Homo sapiens: one gene and its partners. The protein of the gene in region 1 interacts with the protein of each later gene in a biochemical or structural test. Each region holds a gene or a part of one and is shown in the gene's direction. Other genes may lie near its edges. The genes, in order: SMAD3, LEMD3, HDAC5, CDK8, HDAC4, KAT2B and PPM1A.

Evidence for each region.
Region 2: the proteins of SMAD3 (region 1) and LEMD3 form a complex in vitro, tested with the Homo sapiens proteins (one study listed by BioGRID).
Region 3: the proteins of SMAD3 (region 1) and HDAC5 form a complex in vitro, tested with the Homo sapiens proteins (one study listed by BioGRID).
Region 4: of the proteins of SMAD3 (region 1) and CDK8, one has a biochemical effect on the other in vitro, tested with the Homo sapiens proteins (one study listed by BioGRID).
Region 5: the proteins of SMAD3 (region 1) and HDAC4 form a complex in vitro, tested with the Homo sapiens proteins (one study listed by BioGRID).
Region 6: the proteins of SMAD3 (region 1) and KAT2B form a complex in vitro, tested with the Homo sapiens proteins (one study listed by BioGRID).
Region 7: the proteins of SMAD3 (region 1) and PPM1A form a complex in vitro, tested with the Homo sapiens proteins (one study listed by IntAct).

Annotation. Positions count from the first base shown.
Region 1 is NC_000015.10:67,068,602-67,072,101, forward strand, and holds part of SMAD3 (mothers against decapentaplegic homolog 3), read left to right. Parts: intron 1-3,500. UniProt on the Homo sapiens protein: Receptor-regulated SMAD (R-SMAD) that is an intracellular signal transducer and transcriptional modulator activated by TGF-beta (transforming growth factor) and activin type 1 receptor kinases.
Region 2 is NC_000012.12:65,214,319-65,218,535, forward strand, and holds part of LEMD3 (inner nuclear membrane protein Man1), read left to right. Parts: intron 1-1,658; coding exon 1,659-1,725; intron 1,726-4,217.
Region 3 is NC_000017.11:44,092,374-44,096,590, reverse strand, and holds part of HDAC5 (histone deacetylase 5), read left to right. Parts: intron 1-2,756; coding exon 2,757-3,016; intron 3,017-3,105; coding exon 3,106-3,277; intron 3,278-3,384; coding exon 3,385-3,499; intron 3,500-3,784; coding exon 3,785-3,915; intron 3,916-4,063; coding exon 4,064-4,210; intron 4,211-4,217. UniProt on the Homo sapiens protein: Responsible for the deacetylation of lysine residues on the N-terminal part of the core histones (H2A, H2B, H3 and H4).
Region 4 is NC_000013.11:26,347,914-26,352,130, forward strand, and holds part of CDK8 (cyclin-dependent kinase 8), read left to right. Parts: intron 1-1,158; coding exon 1,159-1,269; intron 1,270-4,217.
Region 5 is NC_000002.12:239,131,713-239,135,929, reverse strand, and holds part of HDAC4 (histone deacetylase 4), read left to right. Parts: intron 1-1,286; coding exon 1,287-1,403; intron 1,404-1,486; coding exon 1,487-1,685; intron 1,686-1,691; exon of another isoform or gene 1,692-4,217. UniProt on the Homo sapiens protein: Responsible for the deacetylation of lysine residues on the N-terminal part of the core histones (H2A, H2B, H3 and H4).
Region 6 is NC_000003.12:20,123,742-20,127,958, forward strand, and holds part of KAT2B (histone acetyltransferase KAT2B), read left to right. Parts: intron 1-2,163; coding exon 2,164-2,372; intron 2,373-3,681; coding exon 3,682-3,808; intron 3,809-4,217. UniProt on the Homo sapiens protein: Functions as a histone acetyltransferase (HAT) to promote transcriptional activation. Has significant histone acetyltransferase activity with core histones (H3 and H4), and also with nucleosome core particles.
Region 7 is NC_000014.9:60,255,578-60,259,794, forward strand, and holds part of PPM1A (protein phosphatase 1A), read left to right. Parts: intron 1-1,246; exon of another isoform or gene 1,247-1,289; intron 1,290-3,386; exon of another isoform or gene 3,387-4,217. UniProt on the Homo sapiens protein: Enzyme with a broad specificity. Negatively regulates TGF-beta signaling through dephosphorylating SMAD2 and SMAD3, resulting in their dissociation from SMAD4, nuclear export of the SMADs and termination of the TGF-beta-mediated signaling.

The DNA of each region.
Region 1 (3,500 bases):
CTGCCTGCCTGGATAGGACTGAATACAAAAGTAGATTTTTTTTTTCATCTTTTTTTTCAGTTAGGGAAACCCAGTTGCTTGGGTGGATCCAGACAAAATGGATTTTCATCCTTGGATTTTGTGCCCACGCCTCTGGGTCACCTTGTGTCCCTTGGCAACAGCTGCTGCTGTTTTGGTCGTGGGCAGAAAACTAAAGGCCACGTCTTGGGGAGGTGGCTGGTTTGGCCCTGTGCTGGTGATATCAATGTGTCTGCTAAGCCCCATAGATTGCAGTGTTGCTTGTCAAATTGTCTGCTTTCACCACAACTGCCTTTTAGTTTGGAAAGTAGAGAAAGGAAAATGTTTAACTTAGTCATTCCCCCTGTGTGTGGGGGGTTGGTCACTGGGTGCTTAAAAACACTCTGCAAGATCTGGACTCCGGGGTTTAAGGAGCCCTCAGTCTAAGGAGATTAAGCCAAGTGTGTTTTGGCTAATATATAATCATGAGCAGCAACAGCAACATTTGGCAATTAGAGCTGTATACTAGGGACTTCCAGACCACAGGCTTGCTTCTCTGTGACACCAGCTCTGACTTGTTTCAATTATCAGGGGAGCTGGCGTGATACACACTTATCGACATAAAGAAGGTGAAAGAGATTGGTGCCAAGGAAGTGGTAAGAGCTTCATTTAGATACACCAACAAAGGGGCTGTCAGGATACTCTGAGGTCTGGCAGGATTGGCAGAATTTACACAAGTTTTATAACAGCCTCTCATGCCTCACCTGCTTGAGTACCTGAGTAAAGCTGCAGGTATCTTCCTTGCCAGTTTATAAGAATGGAATCAAAGCATTTGCCGCTGAATGAGAGTTGGTGTGTGAGCGTTATATGAGGAATAAGGAGCTCGGCACACTTAAAACTTAGTTTTCTGGTAGACACTGGTAGCTTGTACTTCCACCAGGGAATCCATGCCTTGGCCTCGTTGTTGGGAGCTAGACCAAGCTTAAAGCATTGCTTGTTTGGAAGGGAATTTGGGCTTTCTTGTGTCAGAGCACCCAGTCCAGTGGAAAATTGGAGAATTGAAGCAAACACTAGGTCTGACACACAGCATCTACTCCCTCCCTGTGAATCTGATGTTTTTTTTTTGGAGACAGAGTCTTGCCTTGTTGCCCAGGCTGGAGCGCAGTGGCATGATCTTAGCTCACTGCAACCTCTGCCTCCCGGTTCAAGCGATTCTTGTGCCTCAGCCTCCCGAGTAGCTGGGATTACAGGCGCCCGCCACCACGCCCAGCTAATTTTTGTATTTTTAGTAGAGACGGGGTTTCACCATGTTGGTCAGGCTGGTGTTGAACTCCTGACCTTGTGATCTGCCCGCCTTGGCCTGCCAAAGTGCTGGGATTACAGGCGTGAGCCACCGCGCCTCACCGAATCTGATCTTTTACTGTAGCCTCCTCTTATTATCTCCTTGACTTTTGCCAGGGTACTCTCACTTTGAGAAAGGAAAAAGATCCTAGTCTTTAACATGCCTTTTCCAGATTTCTGGGGATAGACCTATTACTAAGGCTGTAGAGGCCTCCCTTTTCTCTTGGCTGCACTTCAGAGCACCATGCCCGTGTGGCCCATTGGAAGCAAGCCCCCTTCCAGCTGCTAGGGAGGTGGTCCATTATCTCTTTGCTCTTGTTAAGTTTGATTAGGGGAGTTCCACGTAGGGCCTGAGAAGAGGAGGTGCCTGCAGGACAATAGGTAGCTGATGAGGGATCTGACTCAGCTGCAGCTGAACCTAGGCGCCACTTGACGTTCCCTGGGAACATTTAGAACCTTGGAACATGCTGCTTGCACCTGGGAGTGGAATGTTTGCAGACAGCCCCTCTGTTGTTACAGGGCTGGATTTTGTTGATTTATTGATATTTATTGGACCCTCCCATGTCTGAGTCAATTTTTTAGGTACCAGAGGAGGATGCAGAGACACGTTTGAGAAGCTCCCAGCCTGTGAGAAGCTTACACATCAGTAAGGGAAACATGAATAGGGCATTATTTGAGTATCTAACTGCTATCTCTTTCTCATTCCCAGCTACCAGTAGAAATATGAGATCTAGTATGGATGATTTTTGATGGGGGCGGGCGTTGATGTGCCTTTTAAATATTGTAGAATTCACTATGTTAGGAAATAAAATAATGACAGGCATCTGTTTTTTTCTGAAAAAAACACAAAATTCAGGTCCTGTACCTGCCATTTTACCACCTGCAAGGATTTGGGAATCCATTTAAGTTTCACAGCTTTTATATCTGCACCTGTCAAGTCAGGATGAGATAAGTTCTGTGGAAGTGTTTTGTGAACCAGAGAATTTGACAGGTATGTTACGTTTATACTTCATTCTGCATCATTCATTCATTATTGAATTATTCAGTCCTTCGTTGAGAACATACTACAATGACCACAGCAGGGTCCCTGTACTCAAAGAGCTCCCTGTCTAGAGCGGGAGACAGACTTGCCCAAAGGTATGAGGCATGAGCTGCAGCTGAGGAATGTGCTAAGTGCCCAGCAATGTGGAAACACAGTTAATTCTGTGGGAGGAGGTGTAGAGAGGAGGAGAACCCATGAGAGGTGGAAAACTAAGAAGGGGACAAGGGTTATCCAAAGGAAGCTTTTTGGACTGCAGTATGATGTTGGGAACTTTTTGGTACATGGGGATAGTTCCCTATAAGAATGAGGACGTCTTTATCCTCTTTTACTAAACTGAGTGCTGCTATAAATATGTTACCTTGTAACTGGCACTGAACAGCTAGTGACTTGGGTGCTATATTTTACTCCACTGTAAAGCATTTTCTCTTTGAAGTAAAAAGTAAGTTAGTACTGCAAACTGAAATTCAGGTTTCCTTGGTGGGAACAGGGACTTTAGATGTATCAGCTCAGAATATGACAGGGAGTGTTAATAAAAAGTGGACAACTTGGCTGGGCACGGTGGCTCACACCTGTAATCCCAAGCACTTTGGGAGGCCGAGGCAGGCGGATCACGAGGTCAGGAGATCACAACCATTCTGGCTAACACGGTGAAACCCTGTCTCTACTAAAAATACAAAAAAATTAGCCGAGCTTGGTGGCAGGCGCCTGTAGTCCCAGCTACTCGGGAGGCTGAGGCAAGAGAATGGCGTGAACCCAGGAGGCGGAGCTTGCAGTGAGCCGAGATCGCGCCACTGCACTCCAGCCTGGGCGACAGAGCGAGACTCTGTCTCAAAATAAATAAATAAATAAATGAAAAGTGGACAACTTGCAGATGGTTGTTTTGAAATTCAAAGCTTCGGTGTGACCTAGCTTCTCATTTCTCTAGTTAACACTTGCTGAGAATAAATCCTAGACGCCTGAGTTTCTGAATGAACATAGGTGCTTTTAGTGGTATATTTTTTAAAAAGTCTTTGCAAGGGTGAAGTTTTAAATGACAATTTTAATAACAGAAAAATATGAATACAGTCGCATTTAATTCTGATGAGAAATGCAAGAAGTTGATGAAATTGAAAGAATTTGT
Region 2 (4,217 bases), on another chromosome or scaffold:
TTTGCAGTTTGAATTTTTGATCTTATGTGAAGATAAGGACTGGCTTGATTCAGAATCTGATTAAGATAAAATTGAGGCAAAAATATATATATATACGTAGGAAGGCAAGTAGTAAACTGAATGAATAAGTAACTTATCTCAGTCAACCGTCTGACATAAAACCAGGTATTCTGGTGGTAGGATCTTGGCACTTTTGATGAGTTTTCCTCTTAGTATAACCGATTAAAGCTGCAATGACAAAAGCATGCCACCCATAGTGTGCAAACATGTTCTCTTCTGTCCCTGCACATACACCACAAAATAAATGGATGAGGTTGCATGTTATTAGACATATAAATGTTACTTTTCCAGTCTTTTATATCTTGCTTCAATTTGCTCCATGATCTGTTCATCCAGTAAATCTGTTTTGTTGGAAACTTCAGGAAGAAAGAAAGTAATAAAGACAGAGCCCCCTGATAAATCATGGACTTATTTTAGGTAGTGCAATAAGCTATTACCCCCTCCCCACCCTACCCTCCATCATTTATGTCGATCCCTCCTGATCGTAATTGCTCTTAAATTGGAGGTCTTGTTGCTTTAGACTACTTGGCAGGTACTTAGGCTGTACCATTGCAATAATTCTCTATCTGGACTCTTTTCATACAATTATTTCTGCTTCCGAGCCAGCCTATACATTGTACATTCTGGCCCGGGTAGTATTCCTGATGCACAAGTCTGTTTTACTCTCCTGCTAAATTTTCAGAATGAAGTCAAACTCTCTGTCTTGCTATCCAAGGCTGTCTGGTAGTTAATACTAAACAACTTTTCTAGTAGTTTGCAGAATCAAACAAGGGCTACTGGTTATGTAAGAAATATAACCAATGCTTTCATGCCTTCATGCCCTTGCTCAGGGTCTTTCCCATTGCCTAGGATGCTGATCTGTTAGTTTTTCCTTTTAAATCAAACTCAAATATTCTGTTCCATAAATTCTGTTCCCTCCTTCCCTCCTTCTATATTTACAGAAGAAGGAGGGAAGAGAATCTTCTGTATTACTCTGCAGTTGTATAACATTTAATATGTTTTTTGCCCTTGAGTACAGGAACCATCTTGTTCACTGGGTCTCTCGCTTTGCTGAGAGAACAGTTCTTAACTCCTAGTAGATGTTTATTTAATGTTTGTTTCATTTTAACAGTTCATAAGTTTATACAGGGGCACCTTGGGAGCCTAGGAGAGGACTGAGTATCAGTCAACGTGCCAGTACTCATTCCCTTAGTTTTATGTGGTTGAGTTAGATTAAAACAAGACATGAAGGGCAGCCTTGATGAAGAAAACAGTCTCATATGAACAGTTTACATAAGAATACACTGTGCAGAGGGGGATTGGGAACATTGCTTTGGTGATTGATGGAGTTTATTGTCTGTGAGACCTTTTTTTTAGCACTAACCTTATGCCAATTTTTAAATCGTTCTCCAGAAAGTGAAATATTTAGAGTAATAATTTAGAGTCTTAGATTAAGGTTTCTTAAAAATATGGTGCCCATTACTTAAATGTGAATTTGTCTTTCAGATTATGTGGCTTCTGTGATTTTAAATTTACTGTTTTTTTTTTTTTGATTAAGAATTATTTGGTGTTTTTTTTCTTGTAATTGGGTATTTCATAATAACTTCTCTTAATTTTAGGAAAGTGAAAAAACTCTTATGATGAACACATTATATAAGCTTCATGATCGATTGGCACAGCTTGCAGGTAATTGTTTTAACTTTTATAGTTGCTAAAAATGTTTTGAAAAATGTATGTAGCATGTTATTAGTAGAAAATATTTTTCCAAGTCCAGTGTTATATTTGTGAAATATTTTTCTTTAGAAGTTTTCATTACCTATACAGAGTGATTTTTGATTTTTACATATGTATTTAATGAAGGCTTTTTTCCTGCCTGCCATCTGTATTAGAGGTAATATATATATATAATATAGTTATAAAGTTGATCAAATTTCTTTATTGCATCAGTGGTAACAAAAAATCTGGAAAGCTTAAGTATCAGAGGAATTAGGTAAGCAGTGAATTAACTAAAATCTTGGATTAAATATACAAATGCAGATTTTCTTTTGTTGGTTGTATAGGTATCATTCTGTTTGATAAAGTAAATTTATTCTCCTGTAATTTTCTCTCCGGATTAATTGCATTTTCCTCATAGTCTGCTCTTAGTAATTCTTTGAGAGCTCTAAGGTAGTCAACTTGTCCGAAATGGGAATAATTTATTATAGATTAATTAGTATCAAGTTTAGCACATGTAAACTGCAGTAGCAGCTTATCTATTACCTTTTTTTAGTTCTTTTTTTTTTTTAAACATATAATCTGAAAGAAGAGACTTGGATTCTTGTAAGCAGGCATAAGAAAAGAAAAATGCAGTTTTCAAACTTTTCTATGTAGCAGAACTTTTGTGTAAACCAGATTATTGGTAGCAGCCTATAGGTAAATATGGAACTTCTCTGGTTGAATGGAGGTATTTAGGATCCTGACAGTTTCCCATCCTCTGATCTCTCTTTGTTTTGTACATTGGGTTCTTAATTCTGGTCAATTTTTTAAGCTTTTAATTCTGTATTATATCGCTAAAAGCCTTCTTTGCTTTGATTGTCATTCACACACTTCAAGCTAATGACATTTATTTGGTATGCTGTAGCACCCAGAGATAGGTTAAGTATATGCTAGTTATGCTAGCTAGGGATATTGCTAACACAAGCTTCTACAGCTATCTCTGTAGCATTGTTTTATCAAGTATGGTTCATGGCCAGCTAAATCAGCATAATCTGATGTGCTTTTAAAGATACAGATTCCTTCCCCTTGAGTAAGGGTCAACAAGCTTTTTTTCTGTGAAGGGTCAGATAGTGGATATTTTAGGCTTTGTAGGTTAGTTTGCCTCTGTCACAACCACTCAGTTATGTTATACCATGAAAGCAGCCATAAATACTACATAAGTGAATGAGCTTGGCTGTATTCCAGTAAAACTTCATTTATAAAAACCAGAGTAGGCCAGATTTGACCCATGGGCTGTAATTTGCAGACCTCTGCTCTAAATCTATGGGATCTAAATCTCTGAGGATGCACTAATAAACTTTCAAGACTTGTTCATCTGATAGGTACTTCTCCCCTTTTTATAGCTACTGACATTAAAATGATTACTTGAACAAAACTGAAATGAGAACATGGCTGCTTTTATTTTAGAAACATTTGGCAAGGATTTTACTTTAATTATTCTACTTTCATGTTAACAAGCTTTTTAACTACTTGAAAGACACAGGGAAGGGAAAACATGACAATTGGAGTTCAATATGAGGATAATTTATTTCTAATAACCACTTATAGTCTAAAGAAAAAGCCCTGAATTCGCTTCTTATCAACAATTAAAAGAAAAGATAAATGTAGTTTTCCAAAGATTTATATGAGCACATCCCTTTGTAGAAACCAGATCATAGGTGGAAACTTGTACCTGATTTCCCTGTTGGTCTGTTATAACAATTTTTGTTTTTTAAGATTTTTTTGAGACAGGATCTTTTCTGTCACTCAGGCTGGAGTGAAGTAGGGTGATCACAGCTCACTGCAGCTTCAAATTTATGGAGTCAAGCTGTCTTCTCGCCTCTGCTTCCCGAATAATTGGGACAACAGATGCATACTACCACACCTGGTTATGTTATAACAGTTTTTAAGGCATGCACACCCCTTGCTAAAGATAGGATTAGTTATACTCTGAAAATGCACATACTTTAATTCATTAATAAATTCAAACTTATTTGAACCCTTAAATGATTAGCTTTAAGAATAGATGTGTAAGTTAAGTTAGCACAATGAATATGCTGAATTTTTTCCCTTTTAGGAATAATACATATTTCTGGAGGGCGTCTTGTGTGCCAAGATCTGTGGATAGGCATCAGTGTGACATAGTTCCTATACCAGCTTACAGTTTAGTTGGGAATATAAGAGGAAGATAAGTTCTTGTTTGGACTGAAATGCATTTAAAAGTTGTGGTTAATGTAATGGTAGTTGTTTGTTTATATTCTTACTGGAATTTCTTTGTTTATATTCTTACTGGAATTTCTTCTAGAAATTATAAATAATATTGTTCATGTTCTTTCTTTACTGATTATAATAATATAACCTGTAATTGTATAATGTATAAAATATTTGAATTAATTATGTTTGTTTTCTTCTGTTTAAGAGAGTACTGATTCAAAATTAATAAT
Region 3 (4,217 bases), on another chromosome or scaffold:
GAGGCAGGAAAACTGCTTGAACCCAGGAGGCAGAGGTTGCAGTGAGCCGAGATTGTGCCACTGCACTCCAGCCTGGATGACAAGAGCAAAACTCCATCTCCAAAAAAAAAAAAAACAAAAAAAAACCAAAACTTGTTTTTTGTTTTTTTTTTCCCTCTCTCGCCTCTTAATGCTGGGGGGTGGTCTGGAGAGAGGCCAGCTCATGAAGGCAGAAGATACTGGTAGCCAGAAGGATTTCGGGGTCCTTTTTTCTCAGGCCTGGGCTGGAGTGGGCCACTTTGCCACAGGAGTCTTCCCAGCCCCTCGTGACCTCCCTGGGCTGTAGCGAGGAGAGTGAGGGCTTTCTTTGGAGAAAGAAGTAGAAGAGAAACAGGAATGGGTTGGCCTGCCTCTCTCACTTCCGCCTTCCCAGGCAGTGGTATCCTGCCTTCCCCTTCCTGGCTGGAGACTTTGTGGGGCTTGGGCTGGGCTTGGGGCTCCCTGCTGGTGTGGTGTTTGCCCAGTTGTCCTGGCAACCACAGGGCAGTGGTGAGGAGTGACATGCAGTGACCTGAGAACTGTGTGTAGGTACAAAGAAGTGGAGACCTAGCCCTCCCATAAGCCCATTGGAACTTCGTGCACTCCCTGAGCCACTCGGCCCATTGTCCATGTGGGGACTGGACCCAAGGTCTTGGAACCCAGCAGGCCCTCCACTGCCTTCCCCTCCCCAGCAGCCTTCCTCTCCCCAGCCGGTTCTCCGTAAGACCAGAGTTCTGAGATCTCTGCCGAAGCTCCTGCCCTCCCCCTGCTGTTACCCTTCTTCCTGTCTGATTCCCTTTCCTTTCCTGTCTCCTCCTCCCACCTCCTCCCTGCTGCCTGCCCGCCCATCCTCTTATTCCCCCTCCCCCCAGGCACAGCTGCTGTTTGGCTCACTCTATATATAGCGGCATTTTCAGGGTAATTACAATAAAACTGTTGAAAGGAGATAATCCAGCAAAGGAAGCGAGTCTTGACTCCCAGCCCCCTCCTGTCCCTGGCTTGGTGCAGCCCTGCACCCCCTTTCCCCGAGGCCTCCTGTTCCCACCCCACCCCCATTCCCACAGCCTCTCCCTCCTGCCCAGTCTGCCCCAGATAGGGATGAGGCCCCAGAAGGGGACAGAGGGTAGAGATATCCAGAAGGTCTCCACCAGCCTCTCCTGGGGTTACCAAGGGCACTGTCAGTCCTAGAACCAACCTCTGTGCCTCAGTTTCTCTTCTAGTATGAGGCTTTGCATGGGGCACGGTGTTGAGAAATGGGAGCGGGCACAGTGGTTAAAAGCTTAGGATTTGGACTCATATTCTAGTTATTGGATCACCTAGCTGTGTCTGGTTGCTACTTAAACTTCTCTAAACCTCAGTTTCCTCATCAGTAAAATGGGGTAATAATAGCATCTAAGTCATAGGGTAACTGTGATATTTAAATGAGTCATTGTAAAATGCCCAGAGATGTTGACTATCAATGATAATATTATGTGTTGAAGGCTGGGCAGTGGCTCACGCCTATAATCCCAGCACTTTGGGAGGCTGAGGTGGGAGGATCGCTTGAGCCTAGGAGTTTAATTCAGCCTGGGCAACATAGTGAGACCCTGTCTCTACTAAAAAATTAAAAATTAGCCTGGTGCATTGGCATGCTCCTGTAATCCCTGCTACTTGGGAAGCTGAGGTGGGAGGGTTGCTTGAGGTCGAGGCTGTCATGAGCCACGATCATGCCATTGCATTCCAGCCTGGGCGACAGAGCAAGACCTTGTCTCTGATATATATATAGGTAGAGAGATAAATACACACACATATGTATGTGTGTGTGTATATATATATATACACACACATACGTACACACATATATATACACACACACACACAGATACATAAAATGCGTCGAGTAGTCACAATCTGTCAGGTACAGCTTCATGCTTATGCACATTTTCTTTATTTTTTTGAGATGGAGGCTCGCTCTGTCGCCCAGGCTGGAGTGCAGTGGTGCGATCTTGGCTCACTGCAACCTCCACCTCCAGGGTTCAAGCGATTCTCCTGCCTCAGCCTCCTGAGTAGCTGGGACTACAGGCGTGTGCCACCACGCCCAGCTAATTTTTTTTGTTTTTAGTAGAGACAGGATTTCACCATGTTAGTCAGGATGGTCTTGATCTCCTGACCTCGTGATCTACCCGCCTCAGCCTCCCAAAGTGCTGGGATTACAGGCAAGAGCCACCGCGCCCGGCCTCCCCCTTTTTGTTTTTTGTTTTTTTTTTTTCTGGAGACAGTCTTGCTCTGTCACCCAGGCTAGAGTGCAGTTGCATGATCTTGGCTCACTGCAACCTCCGCCTCCCGGGGTTCAAGAGATTCCCATGCCTCAGCCATCTGAGTGGCTGGGATTACAGGTGTGCACCATCACGCCCAAATAATTTTTGTATTTTTAGTAGTGAGGGGGTTTCATCATGTTGACCAGGCTGGTCTCAAACTCCTGGCCTCAGGTGATCTGCCTGCCTCAGCCTCCCAAACTAACCTGAGATTACAGGTGTGAGCCACCGTGCTCAGCCTGTATTTTCCTATTGAAGTTCATGGCTTCAGCCTCATTTAATTAAGGTAAAATGTTGCATCCATGGAGCAGAGGGATTTGACTTCCTCTCTGTCTCTGTTCTCTTTGGGTCTCCTAGAATCCTGCGTGGTAGCCTTTGGGCCTCAGGCATGACTGGAGTCTGGGGCTGGGCCCACTAACTCCTTCCTGTCTCTTCTGCCCACAGTGGAGGTGAAGCCGGTGCTGCCAAGAGCCATGCCCAGTTCCATGGGGGGTGGGGGTGGAGGCAGCCCCAGCCCTGTGGAGCTACGGGGGGCTCTGGTGGGCTCTGTGGACCCCACACTGCGGGAGCAGCAACTGCAGCAGGAGCTCCTGGCGCTCAAGCAGCAGCAGCAGCTGCAGAAGCAGCTCCTGTTCGCTGAGTTCCAGAAACAGCATGACCACCTGACAAGGCAGCATGAGGTCCAGCTGCAGAAGCACCTCAAGGTGAGCGAGGGGGGTGCGGGGGGCCGCCCAGACCTCCGATCCCCGCCCGGGCCTGGCTCACTTGTGCCTCCGTTCCCATGCCCCTGCAGCAGCAGCAGGAGATGCTGGCAGCCAAGCAGCAGCAGGAGATGCTGGCAGCCAAGCGGCAGCAGGAGCTGGAGCAGCAGCGGCAGCGGGAGCAGCAGCGGCAGGAAGAGCTGGAGAAGCAGCGGCTGGAGCAGCAGCTGCTCATCCTGCGGAACAAGGAGAAGAGCAAAGAGAGTAAGGCAGGGCCTCCTGGGACCTCGTAGGGCCCCGCCCGTGATGCCTGCCCCTGCCATGGGGGGTCTGGCCCCAAGCAGCCAGGTCAGTTGTGCCCTGTCCTGCAGGTGCCATTGCCAGCACTGAGGTAAAGCTGAGGCTCCAGGAATTCCTCTTGTCGAAGTCAAAGGAGCCCACACCAGGCGGCCTCAACCATTCCCTCCCACAGCACCCCAAATGCTGGTAATGGCCCTGGGCAGGCATGGGTGGGCATAGGTGAGCCGCTCAGGGGCTGCCTGGCTATAGGATGGCAAGGGGCTTCTTCCCCGTGCCCATATACGGGCCCTGCAATCTCTCCTTAGAGACAGGACCCCCATCCCTGGTTTATTTCCTCATTCCTTCCCCAAGATCCACGTCCTCTTCCTATATACAAACGATTTTTCATAAATGTAGATTGCCAGGTGGCAGGTCCAGCAGACTGGGTGATAACCTAGATCTGCTTCCATCCCCACCCCCCCCCCACCCCAGGGGAGCCCACCATGCTTCTTTGGACCAGAGTTCCCCTCCCCAGAGCGGCCCCCCTGGGACGCCTCCCTCCTACAAACTGCCTTTGCCTGGGCCCTACGACAGTCGAGACGACTTCCCCCTCCGCAAAACAGGTGAGTGAGTCCCCCACCTGGCCTCCCAGAATATGGCTCCTGGGAGGCAGAGGTGGGCTTGTGGCAGTGTCAGCCCTGACCCCAGTGGGCTCAGCTGCAGATGTGTGCTGCTGTGCGCGTATCTGAACCTCGGTTACCTTCTCTCCAGCCTCTGAACCCAACTTGAAAGTGCGTTCAAGGCTAAAACAGAAGGTGGCTGAGCGGAGAAGCAGTCCCCTCCTGCGTCGCAAGGATGGGACTGTTATTAGCACCTTTAAGAAGAGAGCTGTTGAGATCACAGGTGCCGGGCCTGGGGGTAAGGG
Region 4 (4,217 bases), on another chromosome or scaffold:
ATCCAGGATTTCCACTTTTAGGTTTATGCTCAAAGCATTGAAAGCAGGGACTTTCATCAGATAGTGTATACCACTGTTCATAGCAGCATTAATCACAATAACCAGAGGTGAAAACAATCCATGAACATCAACAGATGAATGGATAAACAAAATGTGATATCTATATATATATCTATATAGATATATATATAGATATGCATAGAGTGGAGTATATTTATCCATAAAGAATGAAATAGGCTAAGTGAAATAAGCCTGGCATGAAAGGATACATATTGTATGGTTCCACTTACATGAAATATCTAGATTAGGAAGATTCTTAGGGACAGATAGTAGAGTAGAGGTTACCAGAGCCTTGGGGAAAAAGGCGGTGGGATTATTGTGTAACGCAGGGGTCCCTGCGTCAGCACCGGTACGTTAGGAATTGGGCCGTACAGCAGGAGGTGAGCCACAGGCAAGCGAGCATTACCACCTGAGCTCTGCCTCCTGTCAGATTAGCAGTGGCATTAGATTCTCATAGGAGCTTGAACACTATTGTGAACTGCGCATGTGAAGGATCTAGGTTGCATGCTCCTTATGAGAATCTAATGCCTAATGAATGATCTGAGGTGAAACGGTTTCATCTTGAAACCATCCACCATCTGCCCCTTCCCCCAGCCCCCGCCCTGCACCTCCACCCCATTATCCGTGGAAAATTTGTCTTCCTCAAAAATGGTTTCTGATGCCAAAAAGGTTGGGAACCGCTGGTTTAATGGATTCAGAGTTTCTGTTTGGGATGACAAAAAAAATTCTAAAATGGATAGTGGTGGTGATCGCAGAACATTGTGAATATACTTATAGGATGCCACTGAATTGTACACTTAAAAATGATTAAAATGGTCTTTTTATGTTAGATATATTTTACCACAATCAAAAAATTAAAATAACCAACCAAACAACAACAAAATAGATTTACTCAGATAATACCTGTTCAGTGTCTTTTCCTCACAGATATCTTCTCATTTGTTACTGAAGTATCCGTCTCAGAATTGTGTGGGTGCTTATTAGATGTTTAAGATTGTTTACCTGTGGGTTTGTATTGCCTTTGAATTACAAATGGTGTGGGGTTTTTTACATTATTTTTGTGACAGAAATAGTTAATGCATCTCCTTTGTTTTGCAGTTACTTCGAGAGCTTAAGCATCCAAACGTCATTTCTCTTCAAAAGGTGTTTCTGTCTCATGCTGATAGGAAGGTGTGGCTTCTGTTTGACTATGCTGAACATGACCTCTGGGTAAGGTGAATTGCTGGCAGACATGAGCAAACAGTCAGGGATTGTTAAGAGTAACTAAAAACAGTTAGGTGTTCTGCTTATTATGAGACTTATGTTTTTAAAATAAAAGTAACCTCATAGAGTGTGGTTGGTGGCATGACGAAGGCTAGAGTATTTGACTTTGTATTATTACTTTTCAATATTGTCACTTTGATCTTTTAACAGATACTAAAGAAAACAATAGAATCTAAAGAGTGTTCAACAACTATTCAATATTGCTTCATATAGTTTTTTGATAAAATAAAAAGTAACTAATATATATAAAATTTTGCTCTAAAATAGAAAAGTAGCATATTTCCTTTTATTTCGTTGTATAAAGGGAACATAAAATGAGAAGGTGGTATCCTCATGTAGGAGGACGAATATGCTATCTTTGGAGAGATCTAATAGTTCTACCATTATTTGTCGTATAGCATTAAGCAAGTCTTTTAATGGCTTTGAAGCTGTAGTTTACCCCATCTGTAAAATGTAATACTTTCTTGCCTTTTTTAACAACGTTTTTCTGAGGAACAATCTTGTATTTGAAAAGTTTTATAAATATACAAATGTAGGAAACTGTTATTAATTATTAACTATTCACAATTGAATTTAATATCCTAATTCTTATTTTCAGTGGCAGTAGTTCAATACAGTATAGTCATGCGCCATATAATGTTATTGTCAACTAGGGACTGCATATATGATAGTGGTCTCCTAAGATTATAGTACCATATTGTTACTGTACCTTTTCTATGTTTACATATGTTTAGATAACACACTTATTTACTATTGTGTCACAATTGCCTTCCTTATTCAGTACAGTAACATGTACAGGTTTGTAGCCTAGGAGCAGGAGGCTATAACATATAGCCTAGGTTTGTAGTAGAGTCTATCATCTAGGTTTGTGTAAGTACAGTCTGTGATGTTTACACAACTGCAAAATTGCCTAACGACACATTTTTCAGAATGTATCCCTTCATTAAGTGATGCATGACTGTATTGTACTTACTTGAATTGGGCATAATCTTGCATTGGAGGAATTTTTTGTGGATGAGAGCTCTATTACAAAATAAGATTCGTGTGAAAATAAATTTTAATATCTCTTGGGACTTTTAGTTCTTTGTTTTCTGACCTATGATAAGAATAGTTTTAGGCCAAGTGTAGTGGGTCACACCTGTAGTCCCAACACTTTGGGAGGCCAAGACAGGAAGATCACTTGAGCCAAAGTGTTTGAGACAAGCCTGGGTCACATGGCAAGACCCTGTCTCTGCAAAAAATAAAAAAAATTAGCTGGGCTCAGTGGCACATGCTGTGGTCCCAGCTGTTCATGGGGCTGAAGCTCAGGAAGTCGAGGCTGCAGTGGGTCCTGTTTGCACTGTTGCACTCCAGCCCGGCTAATTTTTGTATTTTTAGTAGAGACAGGGTTTCACCATGTTGGCCAGGCTGGTCTCTTAACTCCTGATGTCAGGTGATCTGCCCACCTCGGCCTCCCAAAGTGCTGAGATTACAGGCCTGAGCCACTGAGCCCAGCCAGTTTATTAGTTTATCTAATGCATTGCAGAAAATGATGCTATATTGAAAAAAATTACTGTAAAATAAGAACTTAATTTTATCTTGTCTGAGTAGCTGAAATACAAACACCAGCCTCAGTATTTTGCAGTTTACTAAGCAGATTATTTTTTAAATTGGTATTTGAGGAACTCTAAGGTAACTATAAAATTTGCTCTTTTATTAAATATAACATTTATATATTTTTTAAAAATCTGAAACGTTACCTTGCAGATAAAACTTTGAGATATATATATAGAAAATCTATAATAGGATAGCCAAAGTAATTTTGAAACATAGTAACAAAATTGACATTCTTATCAATCTGTATAGAGAACATCTGTTAATACAGATTATAGTTTAAGAAACAAGTAAACTAAACATCTAACATTACCTTGTGTTAATTCATTAAGAATTACTATACTCCTGTGAACTGCTTTTTAAATGATATTTAATAATGTCTTTAAACATTGTATTGATTTGCATACTAATCTATATTTACTAAATTAGCATGGCTATGCTTTTTATTATGTATACATGAAATTTTCTCTCTTTTATGAAACTCTTTCCAAAGTTCATGCTGGTTATTAATTTCTTCTTTTTTTTTAAATCTTTGGTTCTTCTGTTCTTCTATTTTAAAAGAAATCTAATCAGATCAACCCTGTTAAATCAGCGTGGCCAGTATTAAATTGAACACTCACTATGCTGAGCCTCATAAGAAATAAAGTCATATAATTTAAACTTAAGGCATTTTCCAGGCTGGTTTATAAACAAGATTTGTGATAAACCACAGTAGAGCATAGAAGATAGTATAATATTTCACTCAATGTGATTTCTAGCTGCTAGTTTGTAATATTTAATTTTACATGTAGGTACAATGATTATACTTCAGCAAATTTTATTGTGGGTAATATTGTACAGTGCATATAACTAGTTCATTAGCTTTATCATCATCTTAATAATATTTAAGCCAAATAAATATTTTTAATGTTCATTTTCATAAAAAACAAATGATAATTTAGCCTACTAAAACCCACTCCTTTATCTATTTTAATTGGAATGTTGAAGTGAATTGGTAGGGGTTAGGCAGCAGAGGGTAACAAGGCAGTCGCAATAAAAATAGTTATTTTTAAAAATCACTTAGGCGTTGGTGAGATTTCATGGTATGTATATTTTGCATTTGTTATGTAGCCCTGGAATATAAAGAAAATGACAGTAGGATTTGTCATTTTAAAACATTGGTAAAAAAAGTCACTTGTAATACTCTAATGAAAGTGTACATGAAGAAATATATATGAAATTGATTAATTACCTTACCTCTCCTACATATTTGTTCCTTTGATTCTTACTGCGGCAGAGTTTTAATTTTTTTTTTTTCAAAA
Region 5 (4,217 bases), on another chromosome or scaffold:
CCTGGCTTGTGTTTGCTTTATCCAAGCCCATTCTTTAAAAGGTACATGATCTATAACCTGTTTTTCTAACTTAATGTATCATAAACAAGTGTCCAAGTAATCAGCTAGATCGTTCCCAACCCCCAGAGCATCCCGGTGTGCAATGCCCCTCCGTTCTGTTAACACCAAGGTGTCGGGGAAGCCGCATAGCTCTGCCATGCCTGCTGGGTGCTCGGCCCTGCAGCGGAGGCTTCATGGGCATCAGGCCATCTCCTTATTTCTTAACGTTACATCCCAAGAGTGGAGCTCCAGCATCAAAGGTTAGACAGATTTTGAAGGCCTTTGACATAGATTGCCAAATTGTCCTGCAGAAAGGGTGCCACTAACTGATTTGTGATTCACCCAACAGTGTTCGCCGTTCCTCTAGGCCAAGATGGTATTACCATGTTTCAAAAGTGTTTGCCAATTTGTTGGGTTTCAGAATACCTTTTTTGATGACCATGATGTGTTTTCCTGAGCGCCTTCCCCTTCCTGAGCTCTGCCGTCACTGGTCCTCACCGCGTGCTTTTCTCACTGTTAGTTGTTTGATTTGCAAGCTCTCTGTGCTGACCCTCGTCTGCCTCATACATGGCCAGTATTGTCATCATTGCCCACCTTTCGTAGAGGCAGTTGTTTTATGATTTTCTCTTTATTTTTAATTTTTGTGGGTACATAATGTATATATTTGTGGGGTACATGAGATGTTTTGATACAGGCATGCAATTTGTAATAATCACGTCATGCGAAGTGTGGGATGTCCATCCTCTCCGGTGCTTATCCTTTGTGTAACAAACAATCCAATCATACCCTTATAGTTATTTTTAAATGTACAGTTAAATGTTATTTCCTTTTTGTTTTCTGCCTTTGATGTTATGTCTGGAAAGACATTGCCAACTACAAAAAAGCATTGTAAACTATATTATCCTAGAAACTGCAAAACGGCATTGTAAACTATATTAGCCTAGATTTCCTTCTAACTGTTCTGTGGTAAATAATCAAACTGAATAGAAATCAACGAGATGATGCTGGACAAGGTGACAGAAGAAGAACTCGTATCGGGAGGAGGAAACTGGAGTGGTGAATTGTGCTTTCATGTTGTGGCACGTGTTGAAATCTCATGCTCTCATTGCTGTCTCATTTGTTACATGTACGTTTACGCTCATATATCAGAATTCAGTGCAGGTGTTTTCATCGTTGTTTTTCTTGGTGTATATTGCTGATGTTTGGCCGTGACAGACTGTGATGGTCATCGTGTGTTCTGTCCCCAGACGAGTTTGGCGCACAGACTTGTGGCACGAGAAGGCTCGGCCGCTCCACTTCCCCTCTACACATCGCCATCCTTGCCCAACATCACGCTGGGCCTGCCTGCCACCGGCCCCTCTGCGGTAAGTCAGCCCCCGTGGGTCCGTGTGGTGTGGGGTGGTGGTGATGGGTCCTTCCACCCGAGCATCCTGGCTGTGCTTTCCAGGGCACGGCGGGCCAGCAGGACGCCGAGAGACTCACCCTTCCCGCCCTCCAGCAGAGGCTCTCCCTTTTCCCCGGCACCCACCTCACTCCCTACCTGAGCACCTCGCCCTTGGAGCGGGACGGAGGGGCAGCGCACAGCCCTCTTCTGCAGCACATGGTCTTACTGGAGCAGCCGCCGGCACAAGCACCCCTCGTCACAGGTGAGCACAAATGGGCCTGGGTGCAGCCAGGCTCTGAGGCTGCCCACGCTCTGGATGGTGCCCCGCCTTCGCCTGCCTTTGGAGGAGACAGGAATGCACGCCTGTCCCACCCCCACAGTTCCCAAACACACATCCCCATCACGTGATGTAGCCACCGTGACTGCAGTGAAAATCCATGCCTCACTCCCAGAGTCAGGTAGATGGAGTGGAAACAGAAGTCACTTCCCCTTTCTCACCTTTTGGGAGAGGCCACCGGCTCTTGCGATTTGGGTTTCTGTCTGGACCAAGCTGAGCCAGCGCTGGAAGCCCAGAACCGACTCTTGTGGTCAGTTTGTGTTAGCGAACTTTTACAAATGTGCACTGTCTGGGGGAGTGGTTACATTTAGAAAAATACAATTTAGAGGAAAATGGGAACGTCCTTATGAAATTACATAGCAACAGCAATGTGAAAGTGTCACTTCAGAAATGAGGGCACACCGGCCGGACACGGTGACTGACACCTGTAATCCCAGCAGTTTGGGAGGCCGAGGCAGGCGGATCACGTGAGGTCAGGAGTTCAAGACCAGCCTGACTAACATGGTGAAACCCCGTCTCTACTAAAAATACAAAAATTAGCTGGGCGTGGTGGCGCACACCTGTAATCCCAGCTACTTGGGAGGCTGAGGCAGGAGAATTGCTTGAAATTGGAAGGCAGAGGTTATAGTGACCCGAGATGGTGGCACTGCACTCCAGCCTGGGCAACAGAGCGAGACTCCGTCTCAAAAATAAATAAATGAGGGAGCAGCTACCTACCCCCTTGCCGTGCGGGTCATCGTTGTACATCTTCATAGCTTTGTGTTTGGCTTCCTGGAAACCTGTTGTTGCCAATTGAAAGCTGAAATACCCTCAGAGCTGCACCTGTGAAACTCTGGCAGTGAACTTGGTGAAAACTCAGGGGCTTGGCGTGTTGTAGGAGGCTGCGCTGCAGGATGCGTGGGGCTAGGGGCTGGCTTGGGTGGGCTTGGGCCTCTGGCTTGACTAGTCTGGTGGATTTTGGTGTTTTCTTGTTTTGTGCTGCCCATGTGTCTCTGTTTAGACAGAGAGGATTCCTTCTTATTCCTTCTTTGCCCAGAAGCCAAATGGCGCAATCTTTGTTTTGTGCCTGAGCCCCTTTCTGTTTGTTTCTCCAGAAGCTTGAATTCGTGTCCCTGCCTGTCCAGAGCAGAGGAGCCCGTGGTGTAACGAGGGAGGGGGCAGCCCTCACAGTGCCTCTCTGAGCTGCGGCCACAGTGGCAGGCACGCGGATCTCTCTGGAGGAATGTATCTGAGGTTGCGTCTGAGTCTCTTGGATGCTCTAGATCAGCTGGCACGAGTGTGGGTAGTGAAGGACACCTGAGTTTCTCGCCTGTCTTTAAAAACGTAAAATGTGCCTGATCTTCAGGATTCCTGGGATTCACTTCGTCAGAGATGTTTGTCACTTATCTTCTTTCCTTCTCTAAATCAGTTTATTCTGCACGATTAAATAGCATGCGTAATCTTGTGTATCAGGTTTTTGGAAAACAGCCTTTTTGATAGAACCTGGATATCGAGTGTGCATGGGTCTCACCTCTCTGAGAAACGCACTGAACTCGGCGTTGCTTCTTCCCTGTGTGCGCTCATCCCTCTTTTCCTCCCAGGTGCAGCTTGCTCGTTGGCATGGGGACCTGCCCACCGTGCCCTGCCCAGGCTCTGTGCCACCAGGGGGCCCATGCATGGTTGCCCAGCTTGCTCTGGCCTTGCTTTACGCCTGTGCCCAGCAAGCCCCTCCAGTCCTATGCCGCCACCTCCAAAACCCTGCAAGCCCCTTCTCTCCTGCACAGCCTCCCCAGGTTGCCAGCAGCTCATCCTGCAAACCCCCTGGCAGGGAGCCTCGGAGCCAGTGTCACGTGTGCAGCGTAGTGCAGCCACACAGCCGCCTCTGTCCCAGCTTTCTCCTGCTCCATGACCCTGGGAAGCCGCTTATGCTCTGTGTGCCTTGTTTTCCCATCTAGGAAGTGGGGATACTAAGCGGTCCGCCCCCGTGAGCCTGATGAGGGTTAAGTGGGCTGTGCACTCATGTGCCCCTGCAGGTGTTGGCATCATTGTTGTAGTCATTGCCTTGTTCTTAACCTGCCACCTCCCATGCTCTCTCACTCCCCCAGCCAGCCCCTGTCCGTCCTCAGTGTCTCAGGGGCCCTCCCCCAGCCCCGCCATGAGCAGGGCCCTCATTTGGAACCCGCTGGGATTGCCCCATCTTCTTGTGGGAAGAAGCCTCCTGTGCAGGTTCCTCCCCTCCGGTCTGTCCTCCTGTATCCACCGGACTCTCCTTGAAGGCCTGGAGGCCCCCACGCTGTCTAGAGCAGTACTGGCCAGGTCAGGAGCCACCAGCCACGGGGAGCTGTTAAATAAATAAGTCAGAATTAGAATTCAGTTTCTCAGTCACATGTGCACCACATCCAGTGCACGGCCCACGGCTGTCCCCTGAATGTTCTCATTGTCACAGAAGGTCCTGGCAGGGCGGCACTGGCCTGGAGT
Region 6 (4,217 bases), on another chromosome or scaffold:
TCTTTTGCAGCACTGCCATTGGTGAAGAGTCTTGGTCGCTAGTTTTGTATAAGGTCCCTCTTTTTGGATTTGTTGATTGTTTACTAAGGATTAGATTCAAGTAAGGCATTTTTGGTAAAAATGCTGCTGTCATCTCATTGCCTTGCATCTGAGGGCATGCAAGGCAATGACATTTCTTAAGACATACCTGTCTTAAGACATTTCTGACAGCTTCCAGGAAATGAAGAAATGGCTTGGAGATTATATTACAGTGTTAATTTTCAATTTGTCATGTTTCTTTAAATATTTATTTTATGACATTGAGGATACTTCAGAGAACCAGAATGTTGTAATAGAAAAATCTCTTCCTAAAATTGATCTTTCCATTTCCTCCTAGATGTCCAGTCTGTGAGGGCTTAAGACTATAGTTTTTTAGGGATTTAGTAACATTACAGATTAGCTGAGTTTAGGTTTTTTTCAGCTATAAAATGGGGATTTGTACTAGTCTATTGCATTGCTACAAAGAAATACCTGAGACTGGGTAATTTATTTTTTTAAAAAAGAGCTTTAATTGGCTCACAGTTCCACAGACTGTACAAGAATGGCATCAGCATCTGCTCAGCTTCTGGGGAGGCCTCAGGGAACTTATACTCATGGTGCAGGGTGAAGTGGGAGCAGGCACATCACATGGTGAGAGAGGGAACAAGAGAGTGAGGAGGAGGAGCCAGACCCCTTTAAACCACCAAATCTCATATGAACTAACTGAGCAATAACTCATTCATCAACAAGGGGATGGTGCTAGGCCATTCATGAGGGGTCTGCCCTGATGATCCAACACTTCCCACTAGGCCCCACCTCCAACATTGGAGATTGCATTTCAGCATGAGATTTGGAGGGGTCACACATTCAAACTACATCAGGATGCAGTCACATGTTTGAAAATATTTTGGATATATTAATATTTAGTAGTGTACTAGAGCTGGCTTGTACTGGAATGCACAAGAAAATTGTTAAATTTTCAGGAGTTTTGTGAGCTGGTTGTTCCATATGTTGGTAGCTTGAAGTTGACTAGCATGGCACCTGGTTACCTGGATAGCCAGTTCTGGACTAATGAGATGAAGTGTCACCAGTTAGGGCCTTCCTTCCTTGAAGAGCTGTTTGTGGAGCATCTACTTGCAAACCACTAGGCAGATTAAATAAGATGGGGAGCATAAGTGCTGGCACATGGTTGTGCTTCCAGCTATGGTTGAGTGTAGGTCAACAGATATTCTCTGGAAAGAAAACTGTTCTTTAAAAAGAGGTGTTAAGAATATATACATGAGGCCGGGCGCGGTGGCTCAGCCTGTAATCCCAGCACTTTGGGAGGCCGAGGCGGGCAGATCACGAGGTCAGGAGATCGAGACCATCTTGGCTAACACGGTGAAACCCCGTCTCTACTAAAAAATACAAAAAATTAGCTGGGCGCCGTGGCAGGCTCCAGAGGCTGAGGCAGGAGAATGGCATGAACCCGGGAGGCGGAGCTTGCAGTGAGCTGAGATAGCGCCACTGCAGTCTGGCCTGGGCGAAAGAGCGAGACTCCGTCTCAGAAAAAAAAAAAAAAAAAAAGAATATATACATGAGTGCTACTATTGGGCCTGTAATGAGAATTTGAATCTGTCATCTCAAGGGTCCTTAAAGCTCAGCTGGAGAGGATTCCTTGAAGCCAGAGGTTGGCAAACTATAACCCACAGGCCACATTTTGTCTGCTTACTGTATTTTTAAATAAAGTTTTATTGGAACAGTACTGCACCCATTCTTTAACATATTGTCTGTGGATGCTTTTGCATTATAGCAGAAGAAGGAGTAGTTGTGACAAACACCTTATGGCTCACAACGTCTAAAATATTTTCTATCTGGCCCTTCACAGAAAACTTTGCTGGCCCCTAATCTACACTGAATATCATCCGTGTACACATATAATACTCCAATTTCTCAAAATGCTTTACCTGCCTTTTCTGTCTTGTCTTCATAACTTGTATGTGTATGTGTCTCTGTGTGTATGTGTGCACACATGTGTATTTAGGACTCTGAAAATCCACAAATGTGTATCTTATTAGAACAAAGATGAGAAGCTTGGATGTGTCCCATCCCCACTGTCTTGAGAGAATAGCTCTGTGTAATTTTTTCCTGTCTCTTGCATCTCAGACCAATTTTCTGTCAGCACACTCGGCCAGGGATGAGGCGGCAAGGTTGGAAGAGCGCAGGGGTGTAATTGAATTTCACGTGGTTGGCAATTCCCTCAACCAGAAACCAAACAAGAAGATCCTGATGTGGCTGGTTGGCCTACAGAACGTTTTCTCCCACCAGCTGCCCCGAATGCCAAAAGAATACATCACACGGCTCGTCTTTGACCCGTAAGTGGTACTTTCTGTTCCTTCTTCCTTATTTCCTTTTTAAATGAAAGAGGAACTGCTTAGATAGTGAAAGTCAGCCATAGTCATCCACCGAATACTACTGCACCTGTCTTGCTGTGGATACAGAGCTTCACCAAGCTGATTTTCATGTCTGAAAGTGCTAAGAGTAATTTTCAACAATTTACAAATTTTCTTGTTAATGATGATGAAACTTTATATTTTACATTGCTGATGACTCTCCTGTGCTTCATTCTTTATAGCAGTGAGAGAATGTAACACTAAGATGTTCTGCTTTCTTCATAATCAAAATATTGGTTTTGGTATCTTAACTAGGTGCCATTATTGCCCAGGTCTGTGGGCAATTATTGGGATATAAGACAGGTTAACTTTGAAAATCCATTGCTTAAAAAAAAAAAACAAAAAACTAGGCCGGGCATGGTGGCTCATGCCTGTAATCCCAGCATTTTGGGAGGCTGAGGTGGGAGGATCACCTGAGGTTGAGAGTTTGTGACCAGCCTGACCAACATGGAGAAACCCCGTCTCTACTAAAAATACAAAATTAGCCAGGCCTGGTGACACATGCCTGTAATCACGGCTACTTGGGAGGCTGAGGCAGGAGAATTGCTTGAACCCAGGAGGCGGAGGTTGTGGTGAGCCGAGACCGTGCCATTGCACTCCAGCCTGGGCAACAGAGCGAAACTCCATTTCAAAAAAAAAAAAAAAAAAACCCACGAAACCCTAAAGAACTAAACTTCTCTAATTGAATTTATTTTAACATACATAGCCCAGTAGCCTATGGGGACTGTGATCCATGCCTGTGACAATTCAGAGTGATGCTTTAGACAGAGGGAAGGATTCCATAATGCGGAATTTTGCAAATTGTATATGTAAATTTTAAATTCTTTTTCATAATGTTTCTGTAATATTTTGGAGTAAGACTTAACTCTTCAGAGACACATACCATGTTTGTCCATGACTTCCTGCTCTCCCTGACCCCTCCTTGGCACTGGCTGTGCCAGTTCCAGAGCACCTCTGCACATACTCTGTTCTCTATTTGTAAACCTCAGGCACTTCTTAGGTGACTGGTATTTTGTTCTGATGGGAGTGCTGATGACATCTTGTGCAGGCGACCTAGCTCTAAAAAGTTCAGATAAAAGGATGGTCTAGCGAGATAGGGGCTACATGAAGGAAGTTTCTATAGAAACTTAGGACATGTCCCTCTTTCTTAGTTGGTTAATAAGGAACACCCCAAAAAGTATATTTATATAACTAGGATAGGTAAAACTTTGACATAATCTTATTCTTTCAGGAAACACAAAACCCTTGCTTTAATTAAAGATGGCCGTGTTATTGGTGGTATCTGTTTCCGTATGTTCCCATCTCAAGGATTCACAGAGATTGTCTTCTGTGCTGTAACCTCAAATGAGCAAGTCAAGGTAAGGGTAAACCCAAGGTCTTAGAAGAAGAGCAGAATGTGGGGCTTCTCACTAAGGCCTGCAGAGCTTGGGAAGATCTCTCTGTGCCATGTCCAGAGAAGGTTCAAAGTGGAGTTAAGGACTTTCTGGGAATAGTCCTCTCACTCCAATGGTCTCCAACCTTTTTGGCACCAGGGACTGGTTTCACGGAAGACAATTTTTCCACGGGTCAGATTAGGGCTATGATTTTGGGATGAAACTGTTCCAGCTCAGATCATCAGGCATTAGTTAGATTCTCATAAGGAGCATGCAACCTAGATCCCTTGCACGCATAGTTCACAATGGGGTTTGCACTCCTATGAGAGTCTAGTGCCACCACTGATCTGACAGGAGGCAGAGCTCAGGCGGTAATGCTCACTTGCCTGCCACT
Region 7 (4,217 bases), on another chromosome or scaffold:
CAGTGCTTTATGGATAGTAGACATTCAGATATTTGGTAAGTATTAAGCAAAATCTACCTGGAGTGAAAGTGATTGTTGTAGGAGGAGGTAGTAGAAGTAGTTACAAGCTTTATCGTAGCAGACGTTTCTGACTCTCTTCCTGAATGTTATTTTTTCTGAACCTGGATATTTAAGTGTGAAGATTATACAAATCTGAAGTGTGGCAGTGTTCTTATATTGATGTAGAAGACTAGGTTGACTGATCCTGGACCTACAAGCTTCATTTTAACTTCCTACATTTTGGCTTTGAGGGTTAACAGGACATTTATAATCACATATCTCTTTTCAGAGTATTTTACATTTGCAAATATTATCATGAACTTTGTGTCCTTTTAACCAGAGAGGAATTGTGGAATCACAGGAATTAGATGATGTGTTAAAGAAGAGAGATAACTATCAGCTGATTTAATTTGAACCCAACAAGTATCTAATAATATGCATACTCTGTGTTCAAATAAACCTCTAAGCTAGACTTTCAAGCTTATCAAAATGCTAGACTATTTTCAGTGTTTAGAAAATACCAGCCAGGTGTGGTGGCTTATGCCTGTAATCCCAGCACTTTGGGAGGCTGAGGCAGGTGAATCACAAGGTCAGGAGATGGAGACCATCCTGGCCAACATGGTGAAACTTTGTCTCTACTAAAATACAAAAAATTAGCCAGGCGTGGTGGCACGGGCATGGTGGCCACCCGCCTGTAGTCCCAGCTACCCAGGAGGCTGAGCAGGGGAATTGCTTGAACCCGGGAGGCACAGGTTGCAGTGAGCCAAGATTGCATCACTGCATTCTAGCCTGGCAACAGAGCAAGACATCGTCTAAAAAAAAAGAAGAAGAAAAAAGAAAATACATAGTAAAATTTATTGGCTTTTTAAATGGATAATTTCATATAGTCAGTCAGTGCCGGCTTAGATCCATTTGTTAGAGAACAATGCTAATGAGACCTCTTGATACTTTGTGTTCCTCTTATGTTTTCCTAGCCTTGACGTTAGCAACTAACAATGATAACTAACATTATTGAGCTCTTATGTGCCAGGGACTATTACAATAGATTTTCAATTATTATCTCATTAAATCTTCATAGCAGCCCTATGAGCTAGATACTGTTACTACCTATATCTTAACAGATGAGGAAATTTGAAACAGAGCAGTTATTTGCCAAGAGTTTCAGAGCTATTAACAGAAGCCTAATACATGTTCTTGGACTTTGCAGAAATAATTTGTTGATCCATGCGGTTTCATTGCTACTGCGGAAAGTAAGTCTCTTGGCCATTGTGATGGGTCAAAATCTTTGTACATGAAGGGTATGACTGTTGTTCCATTGTATCCAGAGAGTGAATCTTGTGATTGAGTTGGGATTTGAGGTGGCAGTGTATACTAAGTTTGAAAAGTATATTATCATATGTTAGCTCCCTTTAGAAATTTTCCCCAAGAAGAGCTATTACATTTTTTAATATTAAAAAAGCATAAGATATGGCCATAATACAATTAGTTCCACAAGCCATACACACTTTTTTCTTATGGCTTAAAATTTTATTCATGTTTACTACTTTGCAACCCACTGATATAAATTATTTCACAGATCCTTTATTCAAATGAAATTCTCAGTGAGTCTGAGAAGATAGTCTTAAACACAAGCTAGCTGAGTTTACAATAGAGATTATACTATAAATGGTAACTTCAATGTTTATTGAAAATAAATTCCTTAAAAACAGGTCTTGTTTCATTCATTTAAAGAGATTATCAATATATGACTGTTAAATTTTTATAGTCTCCCTGTTCATTTTCTGATGAACACATGACAGAAAATTGAATGTGAGCTGGAAATACAGCAGACTATGAGAAAGCATGGGTCATGTATAATCACTTTAAATTTAGGCTGGTGTTTTGTATTCATCTATAATATGACCACCTCAGGGAGGGATGTAAGTAAACATTCTTTTTTTAGTTATACTTTAGGTGGCTTAATTATTTTAAAGAATATGTTATTCAAGAATTGTCTATTGTACTGTTTTAAAGAATAAGAATATAATTCATTACCAACTTTGAATGTCTTGGATTCTTAGTACTACCTTTTTCTTTATCATGACTAGTAGGATCACATCATAATTTGGTACTGTGTGTATAAAGATGAAGTGTGCTTACCTTTATTACCAAAATTCAGAAATGAAAATGTGAATGATAAAAGATAAGGGATGGCTATATATTTTTTTGTTTTTGTTTTTCCAAACAGAATCTCATAACTTACCAGGCTTTAGAAAAACATCTTTGCAGTATGCCATCATACCTCAGAATGTTAAGTAGATAGGAAATAAAATTTTCACTTTTTGTAAAGCAGTAGGGTATTATCCTTTCTGACAGCCTGTAAGACTGTTTTGGTTGCCAAGGGGCCAATCTTAGAAGTGGCAGTTTTTGTTTTGTGACCAACCCACAGCTTACCCTTTGTTAGTCCATATCTGTCATCTTCATTTTCTCTTTCTGCGTAAATGCTTCTTGATACAGTAAGCAGGTGTTTCAACTAGTCAGCCATCTAGTGTGATCTTTTCTGGTTTGCTACAGTCAGTAAAATAAGTAGCTCTATAAGTGTAAATAGTATTACTTGTTTTATGTAGTAAAACTCCAAGATTAAGTTAGAGATATTTTTGGCTAGACTACATTGAATGCATTGACAATGGATTTCCCAGCTCCCAGAAATTCGTTTGTGTCTGAATTACTTTATACTTGGCTTATTGTGTAGAGAAAACTTTAGAAAAAGTTCATCCATCCATGAATGTTGAATGAATGAGCAGATTAATAAATAAATAGCTCAGGGAAAGAAAATGTGTGGGCTTTTAGTCATAACTATGTTTTTTCTCTTTTGTTCCCTTCCTTATGTGCCATTTTTCAATAATGGGAGTGTGTATCTAATGATGTTGATAAACTTTTTAAAGTCATTGATGAACAGTAATCTGAAAATCAAGTTTTGATTAAGCCGTAGATTTCTTTTAGGGTCCAATATTTTCTTTTTAGAAATCCACTATGATATTTTTGTAGGGATAAAAGACAACCATGTATTCTATAGATGGAAAATGGTAGGATACAGTTTGTTGGCCGGCCAACTTCTCTGAAAATACTTTTTCCTGCATAGAAGATAATCAGTGTTGACAAGGGAGAAGCCAAGGTATAATGGCTGTTATTCATCTGTCTCATGTATTCGTCAAGTGTCATGTGTTAAATATGAACAAAAAAGACATAATCTCTTTCCTCCTGGATCTTAAAATCTAAAGTGAGAGATAATTCACCAGATAAATGCTGCGATAAGGGAAATAGAGGATTCTATGAGCTTATGACTAAGGATAGATCTGTTTCCTCAGATGTGGAACTAAGAAGTGGCAGTAGTTGAGAAGTTCATTTTGGGCCATGCGATTTGAGGTGTGGCTATTCAAGTATAGGAGGTAGGTGGTTACACATTTTTTAAGCTATTAAATAGAACTTTCACTTGAAAAGGTTTTTTTCTCTCTTTCCTCAGCATCTATCTCCCTACATACACAAAAAAATTGCATGTCACAATTCATGAACTCAGTGAGTGACTCTATTTTGAAAAATGTTAGATTATATCAACTGAAGTCTGTTAGAGGCAAATGCTTTTGGTCATTTTTTTCAGCAGGGACATTTCATATGTGTAAAATATTTAGAATCCCCATGTATTTATATATAAATGAATCTTTTACCATCTTAAATGTTTAATAAGTTATATTTTTCCTTTCTTTCAACTTAAGTATACAAGGTTATCAGCAAACATTTGTAGATGCTCTATGTGAGGTGTTTTGTTTATTAGTTTTAAGGAAGAGAAAAAAGGATGGATTGGATCAGGAAGTCAGTTATTGTTTTCTGGGTTAGTTTGAGTCCAAATCCTCAAATATGCGGCGATTTATAAGTAGCAAACTAGGAATTTAATCCACTTCAGTTTTGGATAACTTGGATAAGACACTTTCTGTCTATAGATCTGTCTATAGATAACTTGGATAAGACAAGTTATCCAAAACTGATAAATCTGAATTAGTTAACAGATGAGGCAAATTGAGATTGTAAATGCTAAAAGATTATTAGAAAACTTTATAAACTAAATAGTTCTATGCCATGTCTTTTTAGTATTTTGCTTGTACTATAATTGTAGTGAAAATAGGTCAGTATCTAATTTTTAT